7 linked regions of the Homo sapiens genome follow. The protein of the gene in region 7 purifies or fractionates together with the protein of the main gene of each other region. This does not show direct contact. Each region holds a gene or a part of one and is shown on either strand. Other genes may lie near its edges. The genes, in order: HAUS5, SLC27A4, ASPM, FAR1, NUP210, IQSEC1 and STK32C.

Region 1 (4,033 bases), on a different chromosome or scaffold from region 7:
CACCCCAACTCCCATCTCACCTCCCCCGGGCTCCGGCACAGGCGGGTCTTGCTGGCCGAGTTTCCCTTGATGAGCAGGCGGACCTGTTCCTGGGTCTCCTCCTGAGGAACCAGGATACCCTGAGACCCACTCCTCCCAGCTCCCAGCCTCAGTGTGCCTCTCTGCTTAGGTCCTGCTTCTGCCTGGGAGTCTCACCTGGGCTCTTGCCTAGGAGGCCCAGTTCTTAATTTTTAAGTGACAGCATTCTTTTTTTTTAAGTGATAGCATCTTGCTCTGTCACCCAGGCTGGAGTGCAGTGGTGTGATCATACCTCACTTCAGCCTTGAACTCCTGGGCTCAGATCCTCCCACCTCAGCCTCCCAAAGTGCTGGAACCACAGGCATGTGCTACCACACAGGGCTCAGGCCCAGTTCTTAGCCATAGTTTTCAAGCCTCCCCTCTGGCCCTCCACAAGGCCCTGGGCCTAGCCTCTCACCACCAGCTGGCGCCAGTGCAGGATCCGCTGCTGTTTGGCCTGTAGCTCCCTCAGCAGGAGCTGCCGATGCCCAGCTGCATCCTGCAGCTCCTGGCTCTGATCGTGCAGGGCCTTGAGCTCCGTCCACAGGCAACAGCGCCGAAGCCCCAGTATCAGCACCTGCCTGCAGGGCAAGTGGAGGAGAGCAAAGGAGAGAAGGGTGACTGAGCCACACAAGGGACCATAAACCAGGGAGAGACACTGCAGGGAGAGGAGGCAGAGATAGGAGCCACAGAGGCTGAAAAAGTCCAATGGGCTGAGACACTCAGAAGCGAGATGGCCTAGAGACCTCTTCTCGGAGAGCCCCCCACCTCTCACTGGATCCCAGGACGCGTCTCTCCACCTCCTCCACCAGGCCCTGGAGGCGCTGGGTCAAGACTTGCCGCTCCTTCAGGAGGGTGCTCCGCTGGGAGACCAGCACACCCACAGTCCGCCAGCCCTCCTGCAAGCGGGGTACAGAATCAGGGTACACCCAGGGCATGATCCATGGGTGAGGGGATTAAGGAAGTCTTGGAATGTGGTGGGGAGGCGAGCCCTGGGGTCACCTGGATGAGATGAACCATGGACGGCAGGGTCTGGCTGGAGTCTGACTGGTCCGGGGCCTGGGGTCTGGGGTGGGGGAAGAGCTGCTGAGGGAGCCGTGCTGCGGCCTTGCCTTGGTACTCGAGGGTGGACAGTATCAGTCCTGCCACCCCACCAGGCAGTGGGTTTCAGTTCTACCCCATCAGCAGGTGGCTGGGCCAGGGGTCCTGAGGCTGTCCCAGCTCACCCACTCACATGGCCTTCCCCAACTGTGAGAATACCCTGCCCCACACCTGGATATCTCTGTGTCGCCAAGCCCATCCCCACTGCACAGGGACCGAATCTCTGCCTCCCGCTCTGCAGCCAGGTGCTCCAAGGCAGCCAGGACGTGGCCTGGGGGGTGGTTTGTCAGCAGCGTCTAGGGGGAGGGAGGGTGAAGTCAGGGCAGGATCGGGGCAGGGCTGTGAGCTGAGACCCCATGGGAATAGGGCTGTCATCAAGAGTTAGGTCCTGGCACCCTAAGTTTTGATCAAGGAGCGGGAGGGTGTGGCTTTCCTGAGAGCCCTGCCCTCTCACCTCCACTGAGCTCAGCCACTGCTGGTACGAAGTGCCAAAGTGGTCATCATGAGGGGTTCTGTGGGGTTGGGTAAGCGGACAGAGAACGTTACAAGACACGTCAATTATCCTCTAGTTATCACCACCACCCTATAAGGTAGGGGCTGTCATCTTCCCTATGCCTGTTAGACTTGAGTTCCCCAATTATACCAACCTGCTGGCTTTGGGGCCTTTACATGGGTTGTTCATCTGGGACACTCTCTGGACCCTTCACCCCAGCTAAGCCTCCTCACCAGAGAACCTCTCCCCTCCCTGCCTTCTTAGCTGGGAAAGGCACTGCCTCTGGGTGCCCAGAGCCTCTCAGGCCTCCTCACTCCCGCAACAGCCCTGACCACCTGGCTGTCACTGTTTGTGATGAGAGACTGTCTCCTTCTATTCCCAGCCTGGAAGTCCCCTTCTACAGAACGTAGCCCAGAAGCTCAGTGTCTGAGGAATTAATAAATAAGAGACCCCCACTTAAAACCCAGGGTCTTTACAGGGTCTCTGGGGGCTAGGGACACTCACGGGAGGCTGCCCCTCTTGGCCTGGGGAAGCAGGAGGTTCTGCAGGAACTGGGCCCGGAGGGTGCAGGCTGTTCGGACATCACGCTAGGGAGAAGAGGAGGAAGGGACCTGAGGGGGACCCTAGCATCTGCCTGACTCCAGGCTCCCTGCCCCTTCTCCCATGACCAGGACTCTTACCAGGACCACGGGCTCCAGGCCCAGAGCTGCCGACGTGAGGGATCCAAAGGTCACATCTACTTTGGCTTTCCTGGAGGGAGAAGTGCAGCTGGGGCTGGGGTCCCTGGGAGAACAGATGTCTGTGCCCCATCTCCTCTCACTGCCAGCAAGGCCGGTCAGAGGAATCACTAAGCCTAGATCTCGGGAGCCATCTCCAGATTAGGCCACTGTCACCTCCCAGCTGGAATATTGCATTAGCCTCCCCACTGCTTTTGCTCCACGAGACTGTTTGCCACCCAGAAGTCAGTGATTCTGTTAAAACTGTAGGAAGATCATGTCCCTGCTCAGATCTGTCCAAAATAATGTGATGTTTCCCCAGCGCATTCAGAATAACAATGGGCCCAGCGTGGTGGCTCATGCCTGTACCCCAGCGCTTTGGGAGGCTGAGGTAGGTGGATCACTTGAGGTCAGGAGTTCAAGGCCAGCCTGGACAACATGGTGAAACCCCGTCTCTACTAAAAATACAAAAATTAGTCGAGCACAGTGGCATGCGCCTATAATCCCAGCTACTGGGGAGGCTGAGGCAGGAGAATCGCTTGAACCCCAGAGGCAGAGGTTGCAGTGAGCCAAGATCATGCCACTGCACTCCAGCCTGGGCAACAGAGCCAGACTCTGTCTCAAAAAAACAAAACAAAACAAAACAAAAAAACCAAACCCAGAATAACAATGGTTAACAGGCACTTCTCTAAGCACTTCACATGATTTATTCCACCTAACGATCATGCCTACCCTATAAGCTTGGTATTAATATTATCCCCATTCCACAGATCTTAGAATCTGAGGCACATAGAAAGAAGTTAAATACCTTGCCCAAGGTCACCCAATTTTTTTTTTTTTAAACAGAGTTTTGCTCTTGTCACCCAGGCTGGAGTGCAGTGGTGCAATCCAGGCTCACTGCAACCTCCTTTTCCTGGGTTCAAGTGATTCTCCTGCCTCAGCTTCCTGAGTAGCTGGGACTACAGGCACGTGCCACCACACTCGACTAATTTTTGTATTTTTTAGTAGGGACGGGGTTTCACTATGTTGGCCAGGCTGGTTTCGAACTCCTGACCTCAAGTAATCCGCCTGCCTCGGCCTCCCAAAGTGCTGGGATTACAGGTGTGAGCCACCATGCCCAGCCTTAGGTCACCCAATTTTAAGTGGCCAAGCCAGGGCATGAACCAGTGTCAGGGTAAAATCGCAACACATCATCCACAGTTCTCTGTCCACTCCTTCGACCTCACCTCCTCAGGTTCTCGGTCTTGCCTGAGAAACTTGAGCTGACATTGGCCTCCGGGCTGCTCTTCCTGCATGCTGAGCACACCACCTCTGCTCTTGCTATTCCTTCTCCACAGAAATTCCTCTTCCAACTCAATGTCCCCTCCTCAGAGGCCTTCGCTGACCACCCTCGCTAGGGCAGCATCTCCCTCTCCCTTCTATGATAGGCTTTTCTTCACAGCACTCATCTCTACCAGAAATGATAGGGTCTGTTTGGTTCCTACTTTACTATCTGTCTTCTCTGTGTCACAGCATAAGCTCCAGGAGGGCAGGGACATGTTCTCTGTTTGTGGCTGTTTCCCCAGGGCTGGTGTTCTAGGTATACAGGTGGTATCATTCTAGGCACTGAAAATACAGGTGACTGAGATGACAAAACCTCCTGGCCTCATGGACATTCCATCCTAAT
Region 2 (4,033 bases), on a different chromosome or scaffold from region 7:
GTTCTCGAAACTGATGGGAGGATGAACATAAGTCAGGCTCCTTGGGGACAGCCTAACAAAGCCAGCGCCCCAAGCCTCTGCTCCATGCCGGGACCCACTCAGAGTTTTATGTTCTTTATGAAACATAATCCTCAGGCCAGCCCCATGTGTGGGTGCTGCCATGGGCACAGTTTGTAGATAAGGGGACTTAGGCACAGTGAGGCTGAATACTCGCCCATGACACAGAGCTAAGGAGCTGAGCCAGAATAAATCTCAAGCAGCCTGGACTCAGGGTCATTTGGAGTCAATATGAAAATGAATGAATGAGGGCCGGGCATGGTGGCTCACATCTGTAATACCAACATTTTGGGAGGCCGAGGTGGATGGATCACTTGAAGTCAGGAGTTCGAGACCAACCTGGACAACATGGTGAAACCCCATCTCTATTGAAAATAGAAAAACTAGCCGGGCATGGTGGGGTTTGCCTGTAATTCCAGCTACTCAGGAGGGTGAGAAAAGAGAATTGCTTGGCCGGGCGCGGTGGCTCACGCCTGTAATCCCAGCACTTTGGGAGGCCGAGGCGGGCGGATCACGAGGTCAGGAGATCGAGACCATCCCGGCTAAAACGGTGAAACCCCGTCTCTACTAAAAATACAAAAAATTAGCCGGGCGTAGTGGCGGGCGCCTGTAGTCCCAGCTACTTGGGAGGCTGAGGCAGGAGAATGGCGTGAACCCGGGAGGCGGAGCTTGCAGTGAGCCGAGATCCCGCCACTGCACTCCAGCCTGGGCGACAGAGCGAGACTCCGTCTCAAATAAAAAAAAAAAAAAGAATGAATGAATGGACTGATGTACAGATAGAATGGCGAATGAATGAATGAATGGATGGATACACAAATAAATGAGTAACTTGTAACCCTAAGAGCAGAGATAACTGATGGCCACTGGTCAGAACAAGGCTCCCCATCCACACGCGCCTGGCCTCCTTCCTTCCCAGGCCAACCCCTCCCTCTCTGACCCCGAAGTGGCAGACCTGGCTGGCAGGGAATGCAGACGCCGTCGGGCCCCCGGATCAGCTCCATGGTGTCCTCGTTGACACGTACCAACCGGATGGGGTACACGAAGGACAGGATGCGGCTATTGAAACCACAGGCCCCCACCTGCGAAGGCCAAGACTTGGGCCTGGGCTCTCTCACCATGGGCCCAAAACTGGACAATGAGGGGGAAGTGGGACTCCAGCACCCACACTCTCACGCTCGAACTCTGCCCTCCCCTCTGCATCCAGTGCCTTCTGTGGGCCATCCCTGCAGCAGCCTCGCCCATCCCCAACCTGGCCGCACCTGGCTGTCGAAGTTGCCCAGGCTACAGTTGCACTCTGTGGCCCCGTAGAACTCAGCCACCTGGGGTATGTGGAAGCGGCTGGAAAAGTTGGTCCAGATGGACTGCCGGAGGCCATTGCCTAGTGCCATGCGAACCTGGTGCTGGTTTTCTGCCTCCCGCGGTGGCTGGTTCAGGAGGTAGCGGCACAGTTCACCAATGTACTGCACAATCTGGGGGTGAACTTGGTGTGATTCGAGGCTCCAGAGGCTGCCCTCACTACACTAGGATTCTCCTGATCCCTCAAGCCCCTACTCTCCCCAGGGGCTGGCCATGCCATCCTTTCCCTCTCCGGGTCTCAGCCTTCCCATCTGAACAATGGGAACTTTGCCACAAATGAGCCCTTTGGAATGACTGGCCACCTCAGCTATAAGACAGATGCCCCGGAGTGTAGTTGGGAAGAGGGTAACTAGGGGAAAGGGACAGCTCACCCTTCCCGCTCTCGCTCACCGTGCAGTTGTACTTGATACAATCGTCCCAGAACCGGGAGGCTGAGAACTTCTTCCGAATCACCACCGTCATGCCATGCAGCAGGCACTGGCCGATTCCCACGATGTTTCCTGGAGGCAGAGGGATGGCCCCTGAGGGTCAGCGAGATGAAGACCCTCCCCGGCCCCAAATCAGTGATACTGCCATCCAGCCAGGCAGGCTTGTGCTGCCCTGCAGGCTTCTGCACCTCACATCTGCCTGCCTTGGGTGACCTCCTCCAAGAAGCCTCCCCGGCTTCCATCACCAGGCTCTTCCCTGGTGCTGCCCTCTTGCTCCCTGCCTCTCTCCTACACTCACATATACACCCGACTCTAAGCACCTGGAGGGCAGGAGCTATATTTATTCAAGCTGTCTTCCCTTAAGCCCCTACAAACAAGCAGCAATGCCATGCATATCTGTGGAAACAAACTGAAATGAGACAGGCCCAGATGCCCCGTGGGACACTGCCACACACACTGTGAGGCTGGTGTGCTCATCCTTTTTTCAATTTAAAACAACTTTTTTTTTTTTTTTTGAGACGGAGTCTCGCTCTGTCGCCCAGCCTGGAGTACAGTGATGCCATCTCGGCTCACTGCAAGCTCCGCCTTCCGGGTTCATGCCATTCTCCTGCATCATCCTCCCGAGTAGCTGGGACTACAGGCGCCCGCCACCACGCCCGGCTAATTTTTTTTTTTTTTTGTATTTTTAGTAGAGATGGGGTTTCATCGTGTTAGCCAGGATGGTCTTGATCTCCTGACCTCGTGATCCGCCCGCCTCGGCCTCCCAAAGTGTTGGGATTACAGGCGTGAGCCACCACACCTGGCCTAAAACAAAATTTTTTTTAGAGACAGGTCTCACCATGTTGCCCAGGCTGGCCTTAAACTCCCAGGCTCAAGTGATTCTCCTGTCTCAGCCTTCCCAGTAGCTGAGACCATAGGCATGTGCACCACGCCTGGCTAATCCTGTTTATTTTTATTTTTAAATTAAATTAAATTAATTTATTTATTTATTTTGAGACAGAGTCTTGCCCTGTCACCCAGGCTGATGTGCAATGGCACGATCTAGGCTCACTGCAACCTTTGCCTCCTGGGTTCAAACCATTCTCCTGCCTCAGCCTCCTGGGTAGCTGGGATTACAGGCACCCGCCACCAAGCCCAGCTACTTTTTGTACTTTTAGTAGAGACAGGGTTTCACCATGTTAACCAGGCTGGTCTCGAACTCCTGACCTCGTGATCCACTCACCTCCCAAAGTGTTGGGATTACAGGCGTGAGCCACTGCGCCCAGCCTATTTTTATTTTTTTTGAGACAGTGTCTCGCTCTGTTGCCCAGGCTGGAGTGCAGTGGCGTGATCTCAGCTCACTGCAACCTTTGCCTCCCAGGTTCAAGCAATTCTCATGCCTCAGCCTCACAGGTAGCTGGGATTACAGGCACACGCCACCAGACCCAGCTAATTTTTTTTTTTTTTGAGACAGTGTCTCGCTCTGTTGCCCAGGCTGGAATGCAGTGGCGTGATCTCAGCTCACTGCAACCTTTGCCTCCCAGGTTCAAGCAATTCTCGTGCCTCAGCCTCACAGATAGCTGGGACTACAGGCACACGCCACCACACCCAGATAATTTCTTTCTTTTTTTTTTTTCCGAGACAGAGTCTTGTACTGTTGCCCAGGCTGGAGTGCAGTGGCACGATCTTGGCTCACTGCAAGCTCCACCTCCCGGGTTCACGCCATTCTCCTGCCTCACCCTCCCGAGTAGCTGGGCCTACAGGCATGAGCCACCACACCTGGCTAATTTTTTGTACTTTTAGTAGAGACGGGGTTTCACCGTGTTAGCCAGGATGGTCTCGAACTCCTGGCCTCAAGTGATCCGCCCACCTTGGCCTCTCAAAGTGCTGGGATTACAGGTGTGAGCCACCACACCCAGCCTAATTTTTGTATTTTTAGTAGAGATGGGGTTTTGCCATGTTGGCCAGGCTGGTCTCGAACTCCTGGCCTCAAGTGATCCGCCCACCTTGGCCTCCCAAAGTGCTGGGATTACAGGTGTGAGTCACTGCGCCTGGCCCAAAGCTGTGTGTTTCTACTGCAGCACACTGCCTGATGGGGGTGGGGTTCCTAGAGACCTGGCAGGTGCTGGAGGCTGTGTGACAGCCCTAGAGTTACCTGCTGAGTGGTAGAGGGGGAGGCAGTCATAGACGATGTCGTTGGGCCGCATGCGGAA
Region 3 (4,033 bases), on a different chromosome or scaffold from region 7:
TTTTACGTTGCTTCCATTTTCTGAACATAGATTGGATTATAAGAGTTGATGATTTTAGCATTTCATATCTTTGTTGATCTTGTTTTCTTCTTAAATAAGCACGCCAATGCCTCTGAATTGTAACTGTAGCCCAAAGATATCGTTTATAAGATGTAACAGCAATTATCATTCTTATCCTAGATTGCAGGATGATTGAATAATATTTCAATTTCAGAAATCTTTGTCTAGTGGAATATCTTCTCCAATATCCCTGGAAAAGGTAAGAAAGGACACAAAGTAAAATAGGCATAGCTTTCTATATTTAACACTTTTCAAAATACTAATTTTTCTAACATTCTGCTTAAAAATAAACACATTGAATTAGAAAACTAATTATTTTTGTGAGATATTTGTCTCTTTTGTTTTTAGTTTAGGTTTTACATTGATATACCTGTAGCCAATTCAGAAATCCATCCAAATCTTCATTATATTTAAATACTGCATTTGTATGCCAGAATCATAAGAAACATAAGCAAGTTTATGTTATATTACAAGCAAAAGAGTCAAAATAAAACTATAGTAATATTCTTTGCTATCTATTGATTCTAAGTAATTTCCTATGAGTTTATTTCTGGGCCTTATATGGTCCCCTTACTTCAATGTTTCTAAGCTACCTTATAATGACTAGAAACTGTTTATGTGAAGGATCCTGCATTATCACATTACAGGCCTGATAATATAAATATAGGAATTTAGGAATAAATAAACCAGATCACTCTCAGAGTCATTATTTTCATTAAGAATAAAATTACTTCCTTTTCCCAAATTTAGGAACTATAAATACATGGCTTAAAAGTAGAATTCTAGAAAGACTTGAGAAATGACAAAACTTTTGTCTTTTGAAAAGCCATGGTTACAATGGCTAATCCAACTGTATGTTGGCTCAACAAAAAGAGCTACAAACTCTCAAGCTAATTCCAGTTGCTGGTATCTAAAATGGTCCCAGGCTAATGGTAGTCAAGTTCTAGATGTTTTAGCAATAAGACCATTCCTTTGTACAAACACTCCAAACATTGCTGAGATTGGGGGTGGCATGGAGAGGTTGTTCTCTACTACATCTTACTTTTTCTCGCATATAAGTAGAGTAATATAGGGACTGGGTACCTCGCTCTCCTATAGCAGTATCGAGTTTGCTTGCAGCTATCACTGGCCTAAGCATACCTATCCATGGGTGAGGAAGCTTAAGGAGAACATGCACATCCCTTTTCCTGACCCTTTTCCTGTAAGTTTTATTGTCTTCTTCCTCTACTAAATGTTACCTGAGGTTTTGTTCATACTCTTCAACCTGACAGGAAATGATTGTATACATTTTATCTTACCAAGAAGAGATGCACAAGTTGTCAAAATATTTATCCAACAACAGTCAAACTTATTTGTACAAAAGTATTTTGAAAACAATAAACTCTACATAAAGTATTAACTTGCTTTAAATTAGGGCAAAGTAAAGCAGTAATAGTACTCAGAAATTCAGATATTATTTTTCTTTTGAGCACCCACCCCCAACAGATATTTCTATGTAAAATCCTCAAACTAAGAAATTGAAGAATCAGTGTGTACAGATTGTTTTATACTTTAATAATCACTTTTTCTACATTACTATTACTACTCCATTACTGAAATGTTAATCAATGTTGATATATAACATGGAAGATATGATCATCTCCTCTCCTAACAGTTTTGCTTATTACAATAGCAATTTTTTCACCATTGTCATACAATTCTTAAAAATAAATAGCTTTTACTAAGGAACACATTACATACAATTTTCTCACTTAATTCTCACAAAAATACATTAAGTTGGCATTGTTTCTTCACTTAAAGAAAGGAACACTAATGTTACAAAACTTTTTGCAAAGTCCCACAGCAAATAAAAATAATTGATCTTAGGATCTACATTATTACACCAAAATCAAATGTTCTTTCTACTCTACCACAGATATCTGCAGCAGGTTGAGTGCATTAACAGCCCAATTCTTCATCTCTCCCAGTAACTATAACCTGTGCCATACTTTGTTTTTCCTCATACAAAAGAGTTTCTCTGCTTGAGATATGGGCGCAGTCATGGAAAGAATGCAGTAGAGCAGTGTAACTCAATCTTCAGTTTTCTGGTCAGATGATGAAACAAGGCAGCCCTGAGGAACTAGAGGGTACCAGGGAGATGGTAGAGACTGGGGAGCTCAGGGAAGCAATCTGATAATGTTGTTTATGAATTTCTAGGTTCACCACCAAGTTGTGCACAATGTGAATCTAGACCACAGTAGGCTATAGACTTTAAGAATTGAATAAGATACAGATCACAATCTAGATCCCAGACTGGCTACTGGGTGTTACATAATGAAACTGATATGATACAAATATCACTCACTGTAAAGGCTTTCAAAAAGGAACTGTCACTGAAGCTACGCTCATGGAAGGCTGATGAGAACAGGTGGCCTGAACCCAATCAAGTGAATTAGCTGCTAAAACTAAAATATCAACATTCTCCATAGGATTTAAACAAAACATAGAGTCTGATAACATAACATTAAATTTCCAGAATGCAATTAAAAATTATTTGACATACAACATAACAGAAAAATTTCAACTCTCACAAGAAAAGATAATCAATAGACACCAATGATGAGATGACAAAGATACTGGAATTGGAATTAACTGACAACGACTTTAGAGCAGATAAAGTAAAAATGCTACAACAAGTTGAAACTAATGGAAAGATAAAAAGTCTCAGTAAAGACATCAAAGATATGAGTAAGAACCAAGTGAGAATAGTAGAACCGAAAAACACACTAACCAAAATAAAAATTCACTGGTATGGCACAATAGCAGAATGGAGATGACAGCCAAGATGGCAAATATCTCAGCTTTGTGGGCCAATTCTGTTGCAACAAGTCAATTATGCTATTGTAGTACAAAAGCAGCTCCCAAATAATACATAAACAAATAGTTGTGACCATATTCTAAAAAACTCTATTTATAAAAACACATGGTAGGCCAAATTTGGCCTGCAGATATACCAACCTCTGACCATGATAGACCATATTGTGGATCATAAACTAAAGGTTATCAAATAGGAAAGAATTGAAATCACAGTATGTGCTCTGGTCATAATGGAATTGAAGAAAAAGTCACTAACAGAAAAATAATAGGAAAATCTCCAAACATTTAGAAAGTAAATAACATATTCTGAAACTTTAAATCATAGAAAAAGCCTCAAGAGAAATTAAAAACTATTTGAACTGAATGAAAAAAAAATACCATATCAAAATTTGTAGTATGTGGCTAAACCTGTATTTAGAAGAAAATTTATACCATTAATGTGTTACATTAAAAGTGGAAGGACTCAAATCAGTTACTCAAGATTATACTTAAAGAAACTATAGACAGAAAAGCAAAATTAATCAAAACAAGAAATAATAAAGACTGAGCAGAGACCAATGAAGCCAAAGGGTTGTCCACTGAAAAGATCAAGAGAGTTAAAACTCTAGCAAGACTGACAAAGAAGAAAAGAGAAGATACAAATTATCAATATCAGGAATGAAAAAGGGAATATCACTACAGACTACCCAGGCATCAAAAGGATATTAAAGATATACTTTGTATATACATATGGTAAATTCAACAACTTGGATGAAATGGACCAATTCTTCGAAAATTAGAAACTGCCAAAACTCATCAAAGATAAATAGTCCTATACAAATTTAAAAAACAGAATCTGGCAAGGTGTAGTAGCTCACACCTGTATTCCTAGCACTTTAGGAGGCCAAGGCAGGAGGATGACTAGAGCCCAGGAGTTCGAGACCAGCCTGGGGAATTTAGTGAGACCCTATCTCCACAAAAAATACAAAAATTAGTTGAGTGTGGTGGTACATGCCTGTAGTCTCAGCTACTTGGGAGGCTGAGGTGGGATGATGGCTTGAGCCTAGGAGATTGAGGCTGCAGTGAGCTGTGTTTGCACCACTGTACTCTAGCCTGGGCGACAGAGCAAGACCCTGTC
Region 4 (4,033 bases), on a different chromosome or scaffold from region 7:
ACATTAATCTGAGTTGTGCTAAAAACCTAATCAGATATTTTAAAGGGGCCCTGGCTTATAAATGCCAGCTAGCTAATTAACTAGGCTACTGGTAGAAGCAAAGGCAAATCCTTATCAGAAAACTGCAATTTCAATCCCGGCTTCAAAAAAATTCTCACAGAAATCCTCAAAGAATATAAATTTATAGTCAAACAAATATTTTTTAAAAAAATTAGGTGCCATGGGTGAGACCTAGCTCAAGTAATAGATGGCAGAATCAGATGCTGCAAATCATCTGCAAGTTTAAATTATCAGAAGCAGAATGAAAAACAATTATATTTAATATGTTTCAAGAAAAAATTCTAGAGACTGTTTAAGAAACATTTATAAGATCTGAAAAATTATACTTTCTAAAACTGAAAATAAAACAATAAAACTCTAAATTCAATTGGATAGTTTAGACACAGCTGGCAGACTGTCACAGAATCTTAAATTATCTAGAGTTTAGCCCAGAAACACTGAGATACAAAATATGAAATTAACGTTAAAAGATTTGGAGAACAGAATAATCTAACATACACTAGGAATTTTGGAAGACGATATAAGAATAGTGAAGAGGCAATATTTGAAGAAACACTGGCTAAGTATTTCTCTGAATTGCTTAAAGACACCAAACCTCAGATTCAGAAAGCCCAATGCAATCTAGGTAAATTTTTCAAAATTACACCCACTATCATAGTGATACTGCCAAGCGGCAAACATAAAGAGAAAATGGAAGACGAGCCAGGAATAACATATCACCTATAAAGGAAGAGCCAACTACCGACTTTTCAACAGCAAAAATGTAAGACAGAATATAAATAAAAAAGTTTTTTTTTGGGGTTTTTTTTTTTTTTTTTTTTTGAGAGACTCTCACTCTATTGTTCAAGCTGGAGTGCAATGACGTGATCACATCTCACTGCAGCCTTGACCTCCCGGGCTCAACTGATCCTCCCACCTCAGCCTCCTGAGTAGCTAGGACTACAGGCACATGTCACCATGCCTGTCTGATTTTTTCTTATTTTTGTGGAGATGGGTCTCGCTACATTGCCCAGGCTGGTCTTGAACTCCTGGCCTCGAGCCATTCTTCCACCTCAGCCTCCAAAGTATTGGGATACAGGCATGAGCTACTATGACCAGCAAAAAAGTTCTTTAACGTGCTGAAATCATGTTCCAAAACCAAGGGTGAAACAACACACATATCAGACAATCAAAAACTCAGAATTCACTACAAAACAGATTCCCAAGTAAAACATATTCTAGGTATGCTGAATATATTTCAGGCAGAAAGAAGATCATAAGGAGAAAATCTGAAAGCACAGATATTGGTATACATATATACATATTTTATATATATATATATATATAGAGAGAGAGAGAGAGGGAGAAATCTAAATAAAAACTAAATGAACAAAAGAGTATCTCAACATGGGGTTTAAATAGAGAACTGTGCCGGGTGTGATGGCTCACGCCTGTAATCCCAGCACTTGGGGAGGCTGAGGTGGGCAGATCACCTGAGGTCAGGAGTTCCAGACCAGCAGCTTGGCTAACATGGTGAAACCCCGTCTCTACTAAAAATACAAAAATTAGCTGGGTGTGGTGGTATGTGCCTGTAATCCCAGCTACTTGGGAGGCTGAGGCAGGAGAATCGCTTGAACCCGGGAGGCAGAGGTTGCAGTGAGCCAAGATTGTGCCATTGCACTCCAGCCTGGGCACAGAACGAAACTCTATCTCAAAAAAAAAGAAAAAGAAAAAAAAAATTAGAGAACTGAAGTAATGTATTAATACAACCATTTTAAGTGAGTGGGAGTGGTAATCACAACTAAAACATTTTAAGGTTCTAAATATTATTATTATTAAGAAGGAGGCTATAAATATTGCTTAACTTAGTCTGTGTTAGATATACATGTTAAAACATCTAGAGTAAGCTCAAAAAGAACATACACAAAGAATTTAAGTTCCAAAGTAACAAAGGGCAAAATGTGGAATAACAAAAAGTAAAAGAGTTTATAAAAAACAATTTCTTAGAGAAGCTTTTTCTCAAAACTCAAGAGAAAACAAAGTGTTTGAAAGAAAAACACATAAAGATAAAATTCTCTCTGAAACCAACATTAAGGGAAAAAAAGAATCAACATTTCAATCATGCTTTGAAAATACCTTTGCCACTCTAAAATACTTACACTAGAAATGTTAAGATACAGCAATTTTATTTCACCACTAACAATTATGACTAAAGCTTTATGAGAGACTATAAATAATGGCTTACTTGTTGCATAATAGCTGTGGAAAATATTTCTCAGGTTGCTAATAGTTCTGTAATTAGTATGCTACTTATTTTCTAATATAAAACAGAAAATACTTGCTTGCCTTTTTATCTTCAGGGTTTAGTTGATTCATTAACATATTGACATTCTCAGTATTCCAAACCCAAGAATTACTTGTGAAATATTCAAGAAACACCATAGCTTTGTGAAGACGAGTTATTGTTTTCATCATCCTGTATTGTAAGAAAAATGGACAGATTCATATTTTGTATAGATTAGGAAAAATCCTATCACCACCCAGGGTGCAAGTTTCCCCCTATAATATAGACATTAGTATTAAAATTATAACATTTAATCATTAAGTGTACCAAATCAGCAGGGAATAAGACTATTTCTGCATCTTGGATGAACAATTTATAAATCCAAAAGGAAAACAAATTTTTTTTGAAAGCAGCAGCAAATGCATTTAATACCACCTAAACAGAGTTCTGCTGATATACAGAATTAATTCTCAAAGGGTATACAATACTCTTAAATTTTCTACATAAAATACTAAGCAAATGAATGGATTCAATTAATATTTCCTTGCTTTCTATTCCTTAAACTACATTTTAATTCACAGCTGCATTTGCTAAGATTTCCTGTGAATTAATAACATACTGTGTTATATTTATAATTCCAACTCTTCAGCACTGCTGAAGCAAACAATACAGAAATATTCGTTTGCCACATAGTCAACTCTATTCATTTAAAAAAACAAAACAACTTTTCTTTAACAATGATTGGCACCACTCTTGATCATCTGGATGTGCTGTGAAATCAATGACTCATGCTGAAAACTATCTGAAATAGATATCCACTCACCTCTCCATACCCCACCAATACTCATCCTTACAGAAATAAAGGAGTGTGACACTCTTTTTAAAGTGTGTCTTTAAAGAAAGACTGTGATTCTTTGTTTTTAAAAGTACAAGGAGCTTTAATCTTTAAATCTGTCATTTTATATATCATGGCTCACTGTAAGTCATTGATATCATAACACTAACTTGAGCAGTAACATCTATACAATAATATTTATTATAAGTAGGGAAAGGGAAGAAAGAACTTTCTGAAACAAAACAAACACCAAAAAAATCCCCACTTCTGTGAACAGAAAAAGAATTTTTGGAGAAGTACTTTTTAAAGATTTCATTTATATTATAATAACGATTAGGATTATATGTATCATGTAGTTTAGACAGTCTCAAAATTAGGGGTTTTAGAAATGGGAGGGGCATGGAGGGAAATTACATTAGAAATAAGGAGAAAAAAATCAAAAAAGTATCATTAGCTAAGCACTTCTGATAACACAATTCAATACATTTAGAAATAAACTCTGAATCCAGAATACTGGAAGAAAATGAAGCAATATAAACTATGTAAAAAAAAACTATATTTCATCCAATAAAGTAACTTCAAAATAAAATCTCAAACACAAAACGAATTATCAAGCATCTAAGGCAATTTCTGGACAGGGATAGTTCTGTAGATAAAAAGCATCTGGGGGAAAAACACATGCTGCTCTTAGAAAAGATTAGGTGATTATTTTTTTCTAAACAAAAAGATACAACAAGTTTGTCACTACATCAATATATACTATCACGCCAGTTTAGCATACTTAAATCTCACACACACACACAGCTAACACGGTTTTCCTATATATACCTTATTAAAAAGTTTTTCTTAACTCTTGTTCACTGATAATTCTCTCA
Region 5 (4,033 bases), on a different chromosome or scaffold from region 7:
ATGCCTGTCTTCTGTCCCTGTCAGCAGGGGAAACGGCAATTTACTTCTGCACATTCAGAGGGCACTAGTTCTCCACTAACATCTGAGCAGCATTTAGGCAACGGCACAGTGCTGTCCACTTGCGCTGAGGAAGGAGCAGAGGCTGCCATGATGGAACAGAGCTGCCTCGTTAATCAGGACGAGAAGGGCGGTGCTTCACTCTGCCAGTGAGGTGGTTTAAGAAAACAGCCCTGTTGACTTACTTATTTCTGGCAGCTGCTGTTCAGGGCTGTCATGGGCAGGGGATGGGGTTCAACATTCTATGCATGACCTGGGAGAGGTCATTACAAAAATTAAAACCAGTGACGAGTCCTGCTAATTCATTAGTTTCTGGGATTCACGGTGGGAAATTGTGGCTTTCTTTGCTAGGGTGCCCTCGGGCTGAAGTCACATTTCCAGTGCAGAACAGGCACCTTCTGGGAGCTGGGCTCCATTATGAAGATTCCTTTCACTGGCTCAGCTTTTGGAGGACTCCAATTTCAGAAACGCTGGAAGGAGTGGATGAGTGGGGGCTAAATGCCCTCTCTGGAGTTGGTGTGAGTGTGAATAGGAGAAGCAGATAAACTCCATCCAGAGGACACAGGAAGCCACCTCCCCGCTCCCAGGTACTCTGAAGACAGCCCAAGCCCCTCATTAAGTACCTCTCAGGTTAGAGCTTCTGTCTCCCACGGCAACAATCACTTTGGAGGCTGTAGCCTCCTGGAAGCTGGTCTGGATGGGGTGGAGGTGACGGGCCATGATCCTCTGAGGGACGCTGACCACCACCTAGAGAGGGAGCCAAGGAAGCTTCATGGAGCGCCGCCTGTGTCCCGGTCCATGCTGGGCGTTTCCACAACCTCACCCTGCAGTCTGTGACATAGTGTCACCCGTTTCACAGGTGGCAACACTGAGGCTCAAAGCCTAAACGCCTTGCTAGAATGTGGCAGAGAGGGGGTTTGAGCCCAGTCTGGTCAGACTTCACAGCCCAGTTCTCCCATTGAACAAGCTGCTTCCCCCAGCAGCTGACTGGACGCTGAGCAGCGGGCCTGAATTCATTAATCGATCTGGGTGGGCTGAGGATTTTGGCTGTTCGGACAGCCATGATCACTTCTCTGTAGTACAGCACCACACCCCACCCAGAATCCAGTCTGCCCAGATTTTCCCAGCTGTTCCCCCTGTGCCCATCCTGTACCTGGCCACACCCAAACAGCCCCAGGCTGGAGACCTCCCTGCACTCCCTTGGCTAGGACACCCTCCCATCTTCTCTGCAGAGCCCAGCCTCATCCACCCTTCAGGCCCAAGGCCACTTCCTGCAGCTGAAGGCCCCCCTCCCTCTCTCAGCAGGCACCAGCGCTCCCTGCCTCCAGGAGATCTGATTTCTACCAGTAGGTGAACTTCAGAGCAGGGATGCGATTGAAGCCCCTGCAGCTCCCAGGGATGTGGCCCATGCAGAGCTGTAGGTGACCAGGCATCACTGTCAAACTCACGGTGCCTCCGCTCAGGGCTTACCACCATCCACCTCCAGGGACTGACAGAGGCTGTGTCCCACTCTCTAGCCTGGGACCCCCCAACGCTGGCCCTCCTCTCCCCTTCCTCCCTGTCCACCCTCAGAGAGTGCCCAAGGCTTCCTGGCCCCTCTCCTGCCTGCACTCCTGGAGTGCCCGTGCACTCCCACCCACTCCCAGGGCTTCAGAGGCCACTTCTGGGCTGAGGCCCCCACCCTGTCCAGCCTTCCTCACAGTGCTCCTGCCGCACCCACCCAGGTGTGCCTCCTGCCTCACCTGGGAGAGCTGTGACATCTCTAGCTCCCCGGCCCAGGCTCCTCACCTCCCTGCAGGCCTACCTACCTCTGTGTGCCCCTCTCAGCAAAGGACCAGTAGCAGCCTGGTCATCCCAAGCCCTTCCTCCCCTCCAGCCTCACTTCTGGATGCTCATGGAGCTCTGATGTGCCTCCCTCCCTCCCGTCTCTCCCAAACCTGCCTTTAGATTCTGCCACACCCAGTGATCCCAGCTGAGGGCCTGGCCTCAGTCTCTGGCCAGTTACCCTGTAGCGACTGCTCTCTCGAGCTCCTCCAGGTGCCAGGTAACCTCTGCAAACACAGCCTTGGTCTATAGCACTGTTTAAAAAACTCCACTGAGTGTGGCATAAGCTTCTACCCCTTCACCCTGGAACAGCAGCAGCAGCAGCAGCTAATTTCTGCTGAGCACTGGCTATGAGCTGAGCACCACCCTAGGGGCTTCTGACGTGCTAACTCACTAAATCCTCACAACGCTATCATCCCCATTATACAGGCAAGAAAATCGGGACATAGCGAGACTCAATGATTGCTCAGTCATAGCCTCGCAGTGGCCAAGCTGGGATTTGACCTAGACCGTCTAGCTGTAGATGCCCCACCCTCAACCTGCACCAAACTGCCTGGAATCTGGTGCATTTTCTGATCTGATCACAAAGCCAGACCATGCTTCTCCCACACCCTCTGTTCCAGCCCCCGAGGCTCTGCCCTTGAACCCTACACACCTTTGTCCATGCCACCCCATCCCCTGACCAGAGGCTCTTTCCAGGAGAGCACAGCTGTATTGTCACAGGATGCCTCTGTCTGCAACTGGCTCGCCCAAACTGCAGAGCCGCAGCACTAAATATGCAAACAATTAGGTTAAACTGCTAGGTTCCATAAAGCACATGCTGCCTCTAAAAATGAGATGCATTTGGATCTCAGCCAGACTTGCCCCACTGATTCATTCTCAACTGGAGATGAATGGAAGAGACAGCAGGTTTTGTCGCCTCCAGACTCAAAGGGTGACTTGCACAGGGAGTCTTAGCCTTGCAGGTGACAGGGAAGCACCGGCTCCCAGGAAGTGCCCACTCCGGGGTTGCCAGACCCAAGCCCATGGGAGCTGGAATCCACCCTACAAGGCTGCCTGTCCTCATCACACCCTCTTGAACATGGGGAGACTGAAGCCTGGAAAAAAAAGGGAGCTTGTCCCCATGTCAGAGTCAGCAAGTGGCCAGTCCCAGACTCATGACTCCCAGACCCAACCCCTCAGACGGCTTTTCCCTAAAAGGAAAAGTCTTCATAATCCTCCCAGAAGGTCAGGCCCGCCTCACAGGCCACTGAGCCACATGTGCCTCCGGCTGCTTAGAGCCCACCTCCTTGTAGGTCCTCAGGTGCCCAGCGACCTCATAGTAAACCGTCACGGATCCCACGGCCCGGGCCACAGCCACACCCGTCTTGGGGTCGATGTGGAGGATGCTGTTGGCCGAGGAGCTCCAGGTTCCTGAGAGGCCTGGAGAGGAAGCACAGGTGTCAGCCCCCTTTCCATAGCTGGACACTCCAGTCAAAGCCCAGCTCACCTGGATGACAGGCCAGCTTCCTCGCTGGCTGCCGCTACCCCCATGGGGGCTCACTCAGCAGCCTCAGGAGACAGCCACGCTGCCTGCCCCAGTGCCGGTCATGCTCCTGACTCCAGCCACCTGGAGCCATCAGCTCTCCTACCCTGCTGCACCCGCCCTCTACAGGGCTGTGGCCCCTAGCACCTGCTCTCCCTGACCCACAACTCCCTGCCTGGAATCTCCTGACCATCCTGGCATGAAGCTTTAGCTGACTCCTGCCCAGGAATGGTCTGGTGCTGCTGCCAGGCCCTGCCCTCTGTAGCTCCTTCCCCAAAGCACAGCCCCTCCCCATCCCTTCGTTGCCTTATCAATTCCTTTTTAGCAACAGACAGCAGGTGTGAGGCTCAGAGCTTTCACCACATACACATCTGAGTTAAAAGCCAATCACATTATATAATAAGTACAATTAAAGGACTCAACCATAATCTATTTATGGCAAATTATATTTGTTTTTCCTTAAAGGTAGTATTTCATCTCCTTTTAAAATGAATTTAGTAAGGTTAAAAAAAAAGGTGGAGACAATTTGAAAATAAAAGCTAAGTAAATAATTGTACACGTGTTCCACAGATGTACTACAGGTCACCTGGGCATGGCTGAAATTTGGAAGCCCCTGATTTAGCCCAG
Region 6 (3,477 bases), on a different chromosome or scaffold from region 7:
GTCCTCACCGTGGCCCGTGTGACCCCAGCCGACGAGTGCCCGGCGGAGCCCCCGCTGCCTTCCCATGGTCCAGTGAGCTGCCAGGGCATCACATGACTCTCAGCTGTGCTCTTGTCGCTTCTGTGTTGTGGTGACACCATGCGCTCCCCAGGGCCAGACCTGCACGCGGCAGGTCTGTGCCCGAGTCACCCACGGGCCATACTTTGTAGTTTCAGCCTTTCGAGCCACTGCAGCCGTCAGTGCTGTGCTCCTAAGCCATGGGACCCGAGGACTGCCCCCCGGCGCCTGCCCAGGCGGAGGCCCTTTCAGAAAGGGCGAAGCTCACGCCTGACTCTGCGGGCCGCGGGGCCGCGTTCCCAGTGGACAGCGTGGTGAGCCGTGGCCGGACGGCAGGAGGAGAGGGGAGCCCCCTCTGGCTGTGTGTCACCTTGGCTGGCTGGCTGGCCAGGGTTTTGCCGATTTCCCTCCTCACATCCCTCCCACCCTCGGTCATATCATTGAGATCACCGTACCAGCAAATCTGCAAACCAAGCACTTTGTTAATCTCCAGAGAGAGCAAATACAGCAATCTAGAGTTTAGCCTTTTTAAAAATGTGACTTTAACCCGCCCACCTGTGTCCTCCCATTGGCGTGGCATTTCTTTGGTGTCTGCTCAGAAAGAAACAGCATGGGACCGTGTGATTGGGTCCAGGCTGGGCTGTCAGGGAAGCGCCCTGGTGTCTCCGACTCATCAATTCTCGGGTCTTTTTTAAAAGCCAGGCTCCCCAAAGCACTCTGTCTCGCAATTTTGAGGAGGCTGTTCCGACCTGGAAGCGTTAAACTGCTGCATGTCATCTGGCGTCAGCTGTGAGGCTGCGCTCTGCGTGTTGTGCGTTTGCAAAATGTATTGGCGTGACTGTAAACACATCGTTGAAGTAAAGCGATTACATATTGAGTATGTCAGCTTTTCTCACCCTCTTCTGTGCTGGGAGGAGAGTCTAACTGTAACCTTTAGGTTGTTCCAGAAAAGATTCAGGCCGTTTGGCACAGAATTGCTCTTTCTGAAGGGTAGCAGTAATGAATAGGAACAGACAGAAAACCCCAGGAGGGGCTTTCAGGAAACTCTCCCTCTCCATCGCCATCCTGCAAGCTCCACAGCCTCGGGCTGCCAGCCTGTGGCACTGTCCTCGGTGTGTCCTGGAGCTGTGCTGGGCAGCAGGGCCTCGCGTAAGGAACTGCTGGAACCCACTGAGCCCTTCCCGGGGTTTCCCGCCGCACTCAGTGTGTTCCTTCAGGCTAGTGAGGTTTCATTCTGTTTTATTTGCAAGCTTATCAAAAGTTTGTGGAAGATACATTGTTGGGTTCCAGAGGCTGGAGTCATGCTGCCCACATCTTGTTTGGGAAAGCAAAAGCTCCCAGTGAGCTGGTGTCCCCGTGTGTCTTTCATGGGACTGTCCCCTTTAGAGATCCCACCTGTCAGAGCCACAGCTTCGGGGTCCTGTCATCACATCCCCTGGGAGGGGAGGCAGGAGGAGGCCGAGGGCCCCAGGATGTCTGCCTGGTCCCTTCTCACTGTGAGGACGCCCTTGGCACACCTTTCTCAAGTCACACAAATTACTGCAGTTACATACAGAATTGCTGACAGGAGCAGGAGACGCTGAGGGAAACAGCTGGCAATGTGACAAAAGTCTTTTCTGGGACAACAATCAAATCATGTATTTGTATTTTTTTAAGTTTACCAATGAATTGTACAACAATGTAAAAATAAAGTTCATCCTAATATGCTGTGCACATCTTGCTTAAAAATGTCTTCAGCACCCAGTGCAGTGATCTTTCCCTCACACACTGCATGCAGCAGGAGCCTCTTGTTTTTCTTAATGAGCTGAAAAGACAGCAGATGTTCACAGCTGATGCTGGGTGTTGACTCAGCGCCACGGGAAGCTCTGTGCCCGCAGGTAAGCACGCACAGTCTTACAGTTCTCCTTGTAAAATATCATCACCCTTCCTGCCTGAGAAACGAGTACATTTGTATTTTATGTAACAACAATAGTCAAGGCAGCATTGCAACACTGAGCAGGGTGAGGTGGGGGTGCTGAGCACAGGACAAGAGGGAGGAGGCCTGCCCTCCATTCAGATGCATCTGCATCGCCCTTCTGTGTGCAGTCACATCGAGACTGCACACAGCATGCATCTCCTCTTGGAAAATATCTTTTGCCTCCGAGTTGTTTTAAGCAATTAGAATCAGGTCCTGAATCCCCAGACTGTTCAGAGACTTCAAGGGACACCTCCCTCACAAGAAGCCTGGCACCCCCACTGTGTACCTTTGAGAGGAAAGGAGTGCGTTTGTTTTCATCTGCATTCTGTTTGTCAGTGGCAACAGACTCTATCAATGTAAAACCATGGTTGTGATCATGTGGGGAAATCAAATAAATCCTTTGAAACTCTCGGATTCTCACTTTTTCTGAAAAGTCCAGAAGTTGCCCTGTTGGCCAGACCCAGATCTCCAGCTGATGAGTTTCCCCATTACTTGTTGTGACTCTGGGCACTCACTTTCCTTGAAGACATTGGACTGACTGAGGACACTGATACAAAATTTAAAATAAAGGGACACATCACAACCAATAGAAGGTTTCAAAGGTATTTATAATTTCTAGCAACTTTCAACAAGTGATGGTCCTTTCATGGAGTTAGAGGGGATGAATTCTATTAAGCGTTGAGGTACACTGATTATGACTTAGGGAAAAAAATACCCAGTGGCCCAGTCCCCAGTAAAGATGGATGATGACAGGAGTTCAGAGCAGCCTGCGTTTCCATGTTGGCTCATATCATGTACAAAAGCCAAGATGGTAAAGTCATTCTCCTGGAAGGAAGGGGCCTGTGAGGATGTAATTGGCTTCTGCGATTTCTCCTTTCCTGGCCAAACATAATTCCTGAGAACACCACTTTAAACTTTCAGTGCATGGGATAAAAGGAACTGGCAGATCTAACTAGTGGAAAACCAAACAAAAAAAAGTTAATTTTGGTGACCAAAATGAACTCTGGCCCTCCCTCCGTACAGCACATTCTGATTGAAAGATGTTCTCACAGGGGCCCCCTCTTCCAGTCTCATTCATAGCCACTACTGGCTCATCTAGACTGAAACCAGGAAACCAGCCATTTCAGTGCACACACACAAGTGCCTTGCACAATGCCTGTTTCTGCAACTGGGCGTCCATCCCTTTTACAGACTATTCAGGGGCCCTTCAAGAGAAGCTGGGTACAAAAATTCCCTGAAATACCCGGTTCTGCCTCAGGGTTTGATTTTTACTACGCAGATCTACAGCCCAGGAGCTGCTGGAGGTAGGTGAGCTAGGCCAGGGCTCCGAGGCGGTGATCTTCTGGGGATTGTGTTTGTCTCCCCCTGCCCTGAGATTGTGAGCTGCATGATCCGCCTGTGTGTGTCCAGTGACAGCCCCAGGACTGGGCTTGTCGGCATGCATCTATCTGAAAATTAATGGA
Region 7 (4,033 bases):
CCTTCCAATACGTGGGACAAGGGGACGTGGCTCAGGGCTCCTCTGTGGTGACCGGCAGGGCGGGCGCACAAGCCTGCTGTGAGGGTGCCTGGAGACGCAGCTCAGGGGATCACCAGGACACCAGTGACCTGGTAGGGCTCGCCATGAGAGGGCCACAGAGCCTGCCACCAGCTCGCTTCCTGGGGCTTGGGGCTGCCATCTGCGGAGGCCCCCACAGGTTGCAGTGAAGGGATCTGTGCCTGCCAGGAAGCGGCACTAACTGTGCACTGGAGGGGGTGTCCCGAGCCGCAGGTAAGTGAGGGAGGGAGGTGGGTGCTCGGAGGGTGAGGAGGCTCAGGGATGGGGGCTCACCTTCCGCAGCAAGGCCACCATCTCCTTGGACCACGTGGGGACATACTGGACGCTCACGGTGCTGAACAGCTGCACCAGGGACTCCACGGCGTTGCTGGAGTGGATGTCATAGGGCCTCTGGAGACAGGGAGGCAGTGCTGGGCAGGTCCTCCTGGCCCCCAGGACACCCAGAACAATGCCAGACACAGGTGCCATCGCCCTGAGAGGACCCCCTCCCCCCACCCCAAGTGCAGGCACAGCTCTGAGCACAGCCTGGCCTCCACCTGCCGCGGAGGAGCCTGGGTGAGATAAAGCTTACGCCTGGGTCCTGCGCCCTGGCTGCTGCGCCCATCTGGCTGGGATCCCAGGGGGCCTGGGTCCAGGTAGATCAGCCCCAGAGGGCCAGGAGGGAGCTGGCTTCCTCAGAGGTGGGGTCCTGTGCAGGGCTGAGGGGTACGGTCCACAAGAGGACCCCCAGCCTCCCGGTCTCCAGGACTGGCCTCGCCGTGGCCACAAGGGTAAGAGCACAGGGCCCCAAAAGAAACTTTTTGTGGAAAGTTCCGAGGCAGCACCCCTGCTGGCCAGTTCTCAGCCTTGTCCACCCCCACAGAGGCTGGCCTGCAGGCACCAGCAGCGGCCCCGGGAAACCACAGTGAGTCTGTCCTTCCTCCTCCTGCTCAGGCATTCCATCACCAACTACACACTTCGATAAAAGCGTGACTCCTCAGACACAGTGGAGACATCCCTGCGCACCTGGACACTGGGGCAGCCACCCCCTCCCCAGCACTGGTGGGGGCAGAGAGCAGGGGCCTGGCAGCCAAGCCCAGGGGCTGCAGGGGGTCCATACCCATCCTCGCAGCAGCTCATAGGCCATCACCCCCACCGACCACCAGTCCACCTCGAAGGAGTAGCCGGTCCCGCCGTTGACAAAAGAGTGGAAGATCTCCGGAGCTTTCCGACAGAAAGAAGGAAAAACAGCTGCCACGGGGTCACAGCCCGGACCCGTGGGCACAGGGCCGGCACCTTGAGGCCACATCCCGAGACCAGGCTGCCTCCAGGGTGGGACAGAGAAGCCACCGAGGTCTTGTCCTTCCCACCTGGAGGAAGCCAGCTCCCATCTGGAACCCCAGCTCGGGCTCACCCATGTACGGCTTGGTGCCTGCTAATGCCGTCGCCCGCTCCCCGTCCTTGATGATGGTGGCAATGTTGAAGTCGGTCAGGTGTGCATGTCCTGTGCAGAGAGGGGTCAGGTGTGGCTGTCCCAGGACCAGAGATGCATCCTTGCGTGCAGGATCCTCCTCCCCTGACAGGCCCATCCCTGCCACCACCCACCTGGGCTGCCCACACCCAACCCCACACACCTCTCTCATCCAGGAGAATGTTGTCAGGCTTGACATCTCTAGAAAGAGCAGAAAGTGGGAAGGTGAGTTGGGAATCTGCCCTGTTTCTGCCCTGGAATCTCTGTCACAATCCCTGGAGTCCCCAGGACATCCCACCAACCCACTCGAGGCAGAGGCCTGGGAGCTTGACTTGGTCCTTGGATGATGCTAGGACCTCACACCCCTGCGTGGGGGCAGAGGCGATGAAGTCAGCCACTTCGTTCCCTGTGGCATCTGGGCAGCAGCACACACCTGGCACCAGATGCTGGGAGGGGGCCTGGAGCCCCAGAGGACGAGAGCAATTGCTGGCAGGGTCTGCCCTCCCCCTCCAAGACTCGGCCTCTAGGAGACCAAGCCACCTCGGCTCTTGCTTTGTCCCAACTTTTCCAGGTACACAGCCAGTGCTCAGTGACTGGTGCCTAGGTCATAATCAGACATCCGAGTCCCCAAGAGCAGAAATGCAAACACCAGTCCATTCGACTTTAAAATATACCTCACAGATATTTTCATTTTGTTCCATTGCTGCGGAATTTCAGCCTAATTTCTGCTTCCCAATTTCACTTCCTTCATAATCTGCTTCCTATTTTCTTTTTTTAAATTTTATTTTCAGAGCCATCACACCAGCTCTGCTTCCTAATTTCATCTGCTTTAAGCTAATGTTAAAATTAGTTTGGATTCCCTGGGATGTGGTGGATGGGCAAACAGGAGCCTTCAGTTAAATGGACCAGGTGAAGGCCACCTGCTGTGACCCAGCCTGGTGGTCTGTCCACCAGGGCTAACAGCCCACTGTGCCCAGTCTCAGCTGGGGCTGCTGGGACGAGGTCCCCCCAGATGGACACCAGGCACACAGCTATGGGGCTGACCTGGTCGGCACAGGTGCCACAGCTGGGGGCAGGCACTCAGGCAAGGGTGGGGCAGAGGAGCTAGACCCGCTCTGAGGGAGTACGGCCGCCGTGCCGGCAGCCTGACCTAAGGCTGCTTCAGCCCCGCCCACCTCAGCAGGTACCTGCGCCGTCTGCCACGCACACACCTGTGGATGATGTGCTGGCCGCGCAGGTAGTCCAGAGCCAGTGCCATCTCGCAGATGTACAGCCTCACCGTGTCCTCGGAGAACTGCACGTTCTGCTGCAGGTGGTAGCGCAGGTCCCCGCCCAGTAGCAGGTCCACGACCATGAACATGTCCTCCTCGTCCTGGAAGGAGTACCTGTGGGCACCGATGGAAGGCCTGTTGTGCGCACAGCTGGGGAGCCAGTCATGGCTGCTCCCACAGCTGACACACTCCCCCTAAGGACCACAGCCCCACCCCAGCATCAGCCACCAGGCATTCCCAGGAGGAGGGGCCTGCCCAAGGCACTGATTGCACCCCAGCCCAGAGCAGCTCTGAGCCCAGATCCTGAGGAAAGACACACCACCCTGTGCTGGAGGTGGCCCAGCTGGGGCCAGAGGCACCTGGGAGTGGCAAATGCAGAGCAGAGCTACAGTGCCAGCTCCGGGTGCTTCAGGCTGCCCGGCCTCCTCTTCGGTAAAATGGGGATACAGACATTTGCCTCGGAGGGTTGTTACAGAAAATGAGGCCGTGTAGGTACCACTCTTGACAGTGTTGGGCAAAGAGCTGGCATTTAACAACCAGCATCCATGGTGTTGACGATGGCAGTGATGGTGGTGGTGGTGACGGTGATGGTGAGGATGACGGTAGTGAGGACTGAGGGTGGTGGTGATGGTGATAACAGTGATTGTGGTCGTGGTGGTGGTGGTAATGGTGGTGACAATAGTGATTGTGTTGATTATAGTGATGACGGTGATGAGAGTGATGATGGTTGCAGTGGTGATGGTGGTGGTGATGGCGATGATGGTGGTGATGGTGATGGTGATGACAGTGGTGAGTTTTTCAGTCCCTAAACTCTCTCCCTCTCTGACTAGTGCCAGAGACTCCATGGGAGCACATCTCCATTGTAGGGAAGCCCTGGTCTTCCGGCAGGCTCAGAAGAGACACTGCATTAACCAACCCCAGCATGTCATGGCCACCTGGGCCACTGCCAGGCCTGGGGCACAGGAAGGGGGATAGATGAGGAGGGCTAGAGAGGGCCTGTGGGTGGCAGAGGCATCTCCGAGGCACGAGGGCCAAGGAGCACCAAGGGCAGGAGAGGATAGCCAGTGCCTTCCCGGCTTCAGGACGGTAAGTCTTTCTGCAGCGAGGCCATGGCAGGCTCACCAGAGGTTCACCAGGAAGACGTGCTCGATCTCCTGCAGGATCTCCAGCTCCCGGAAGACGTTGCGGACCTCGTCGCGCTCGATGCACTGCTGCTTGTTCATGTACTTCATGG

Evidence for each region.
Region 1: the proteins of STK32C (region 7) and HAUS5 purify together in Homo sapiens (affinity purification with mass spectrometry; one large-scale study listed by BioGRID and IntAct). This does not show direct contact.
Region 2: the proteins of STK32C (region 7) and SLC27A4 purify together in Homo sapiens (affinity purification with mass spectrometry; one large-scale study listed by BioGRID and IntAct). This does not show direct contact.
Region 3: the proteins of STK32C (region 7) and ASPM purify together in Homo sapiens (affinity purification with mass spectrometry; one large-scale study listed by BioGRID and IntAct). This does not show direct contact.
Region 4: the proteins of STK32C (region 7) and FAR1 purify together in Homo sapiens (affinity purification with mass spectrometry; one large-scale study listed by BioGRID and IntAct). This does not show direct contact.
Region 5: the proteins of STK32C (region 7) and NUP210 purify together in Homo sapiens (affinity purification with mass spectrometry; one large-scale study listed by BioGRID and IntAct). This does not show direct contact.
Region 6: the proteins of STK32C (region 7) and IQSEC1 purify together in Homo sapiens (affinity purification with mass spectrometry; one large-scale study listed by BioGRID and IntAct). This does not show direct contact.

The regions. Positions count from the first base shown.
Region 1 is NC_000019.10:35,615,492-35,619,524, reverse strand, and holds part of HAUS5 (HAUS augmin-like complex subunit 5), read right to left. Parts: intron 2,402-4,033; coding exon 2,332-2,401; intron 2,239-2,331; coding exon 2,156-2,238; intron 1,671-2,155; coding exon 1,613-1,670; intron 1,455-1,612; coding exon 1,330-1,454; intron 1,124-1,329; coding exon 1,060-1,123; intron 957-1,059; coding exon 826-956; intron 639-825; coding exon 476-638; intron 102-475; coding exon 21-101; intron 1-20.
Region 2 is NC_000009.12:128,350,518-128,354,550, reverse strand, and holds part of SLC27A4 (long-chain fatty acid transport protein 4), read right to left. Parts: coding exon 3,976-4,033; intron 1,914-3,975; coding exon 1,804-1,913; intron 1,527-1,803; coding exon 1,317-1,526; intron 1,137-1,316; coding exon 1,010-1,136; intron 1-1,009. UniProt on the Homo sapiens protein: Mediates the levels of long-chain fatty acids (LCFA) in the cell by facilitating their transport across cell membranes. Appears to be the principal fatty acid transporter in small intestinal enterocytes.
Region 3 is NC_000001.11:197,104,936-197,108,968, forward strand, and holds part of ASPM (abnormal spindle-like microcephaly-associated protein), read right to left. Parts: intron 251-4,033; coding exon 1-250. UniProt on the Homo sapiens protein: Involved in mitotic spindle regulation and coordination of mitotic processes.
Region 4 is NC_000011.10:13,720,212-13,724,244, reverse strand, and holds part of FAR1 (fatty acyl-CoA reductase 1), read right to left. Parts: exon of another isoform or gene 3,551-4,033; intron 2,516-3,550; coding exon 2,386-2,515; intron 1-2,385. UniProt on the Homo sapiens protein: Catalyzes the reduction of saturated and unsaturated C16 or C18 fatty acyl-CoA to fatty alcohols. It plays an essential role in the production of ether lipids/plasmalogens which synthesis requires fatty alcohols.
Region 5 is NC_000003.12:13,322,629-13,326,661, forward strand, and holds part of NUP210 (nuclear pore membrane glycoprotein 210 precursor), read right to left. Parts: intron 3,304-4,033; coding exon 3,167-3,303; intron 805-3,166; coding exon 681-804; intron 1-680. UniProt on the Homo sapiens protein: Nucleoporin essential for nuclear pore assembly and fusion, nuclear pore spacing, as well as structural integrity.
Region 6 is NC_000003.12:12,896,167-12,899,643, reverse strand, and holds the end of IQSEC1 (IQ motif and SEC7 domain-containing protein 1), read left to right. Parts: 3' UTR 1-209; coding exon of another isoform or gene 210-254; 3' UTR 255-2,601; downstream 2,602-3,477. UniProt on the Homo sapiens protein: Guanine nucleotide exchange factor for ARF1 and ARF6. Guanine nucleotide exchange factor activity is enhanced by lipid binding. Accelerates GTP binding by ARFs of all three classes.
Region 7 is NC_000010.11:132,224,056-132,228,088, forward strand, and holds part of STK32C (serine/threonine-protein kinase 32C), read right to left. Parts: coding exon 3,922-4,033; intron 2,914-3,921; coding exon 2,740-2,913; intron 1,730-2,739; coding exon 1,692-1,729; intron 1,562-1,691; coding exon 1,472-1,561; intron 1,282-1,471; coding exon 1,178-1,281; intron 469-1,177; coding exon 352-468; intron 1-351.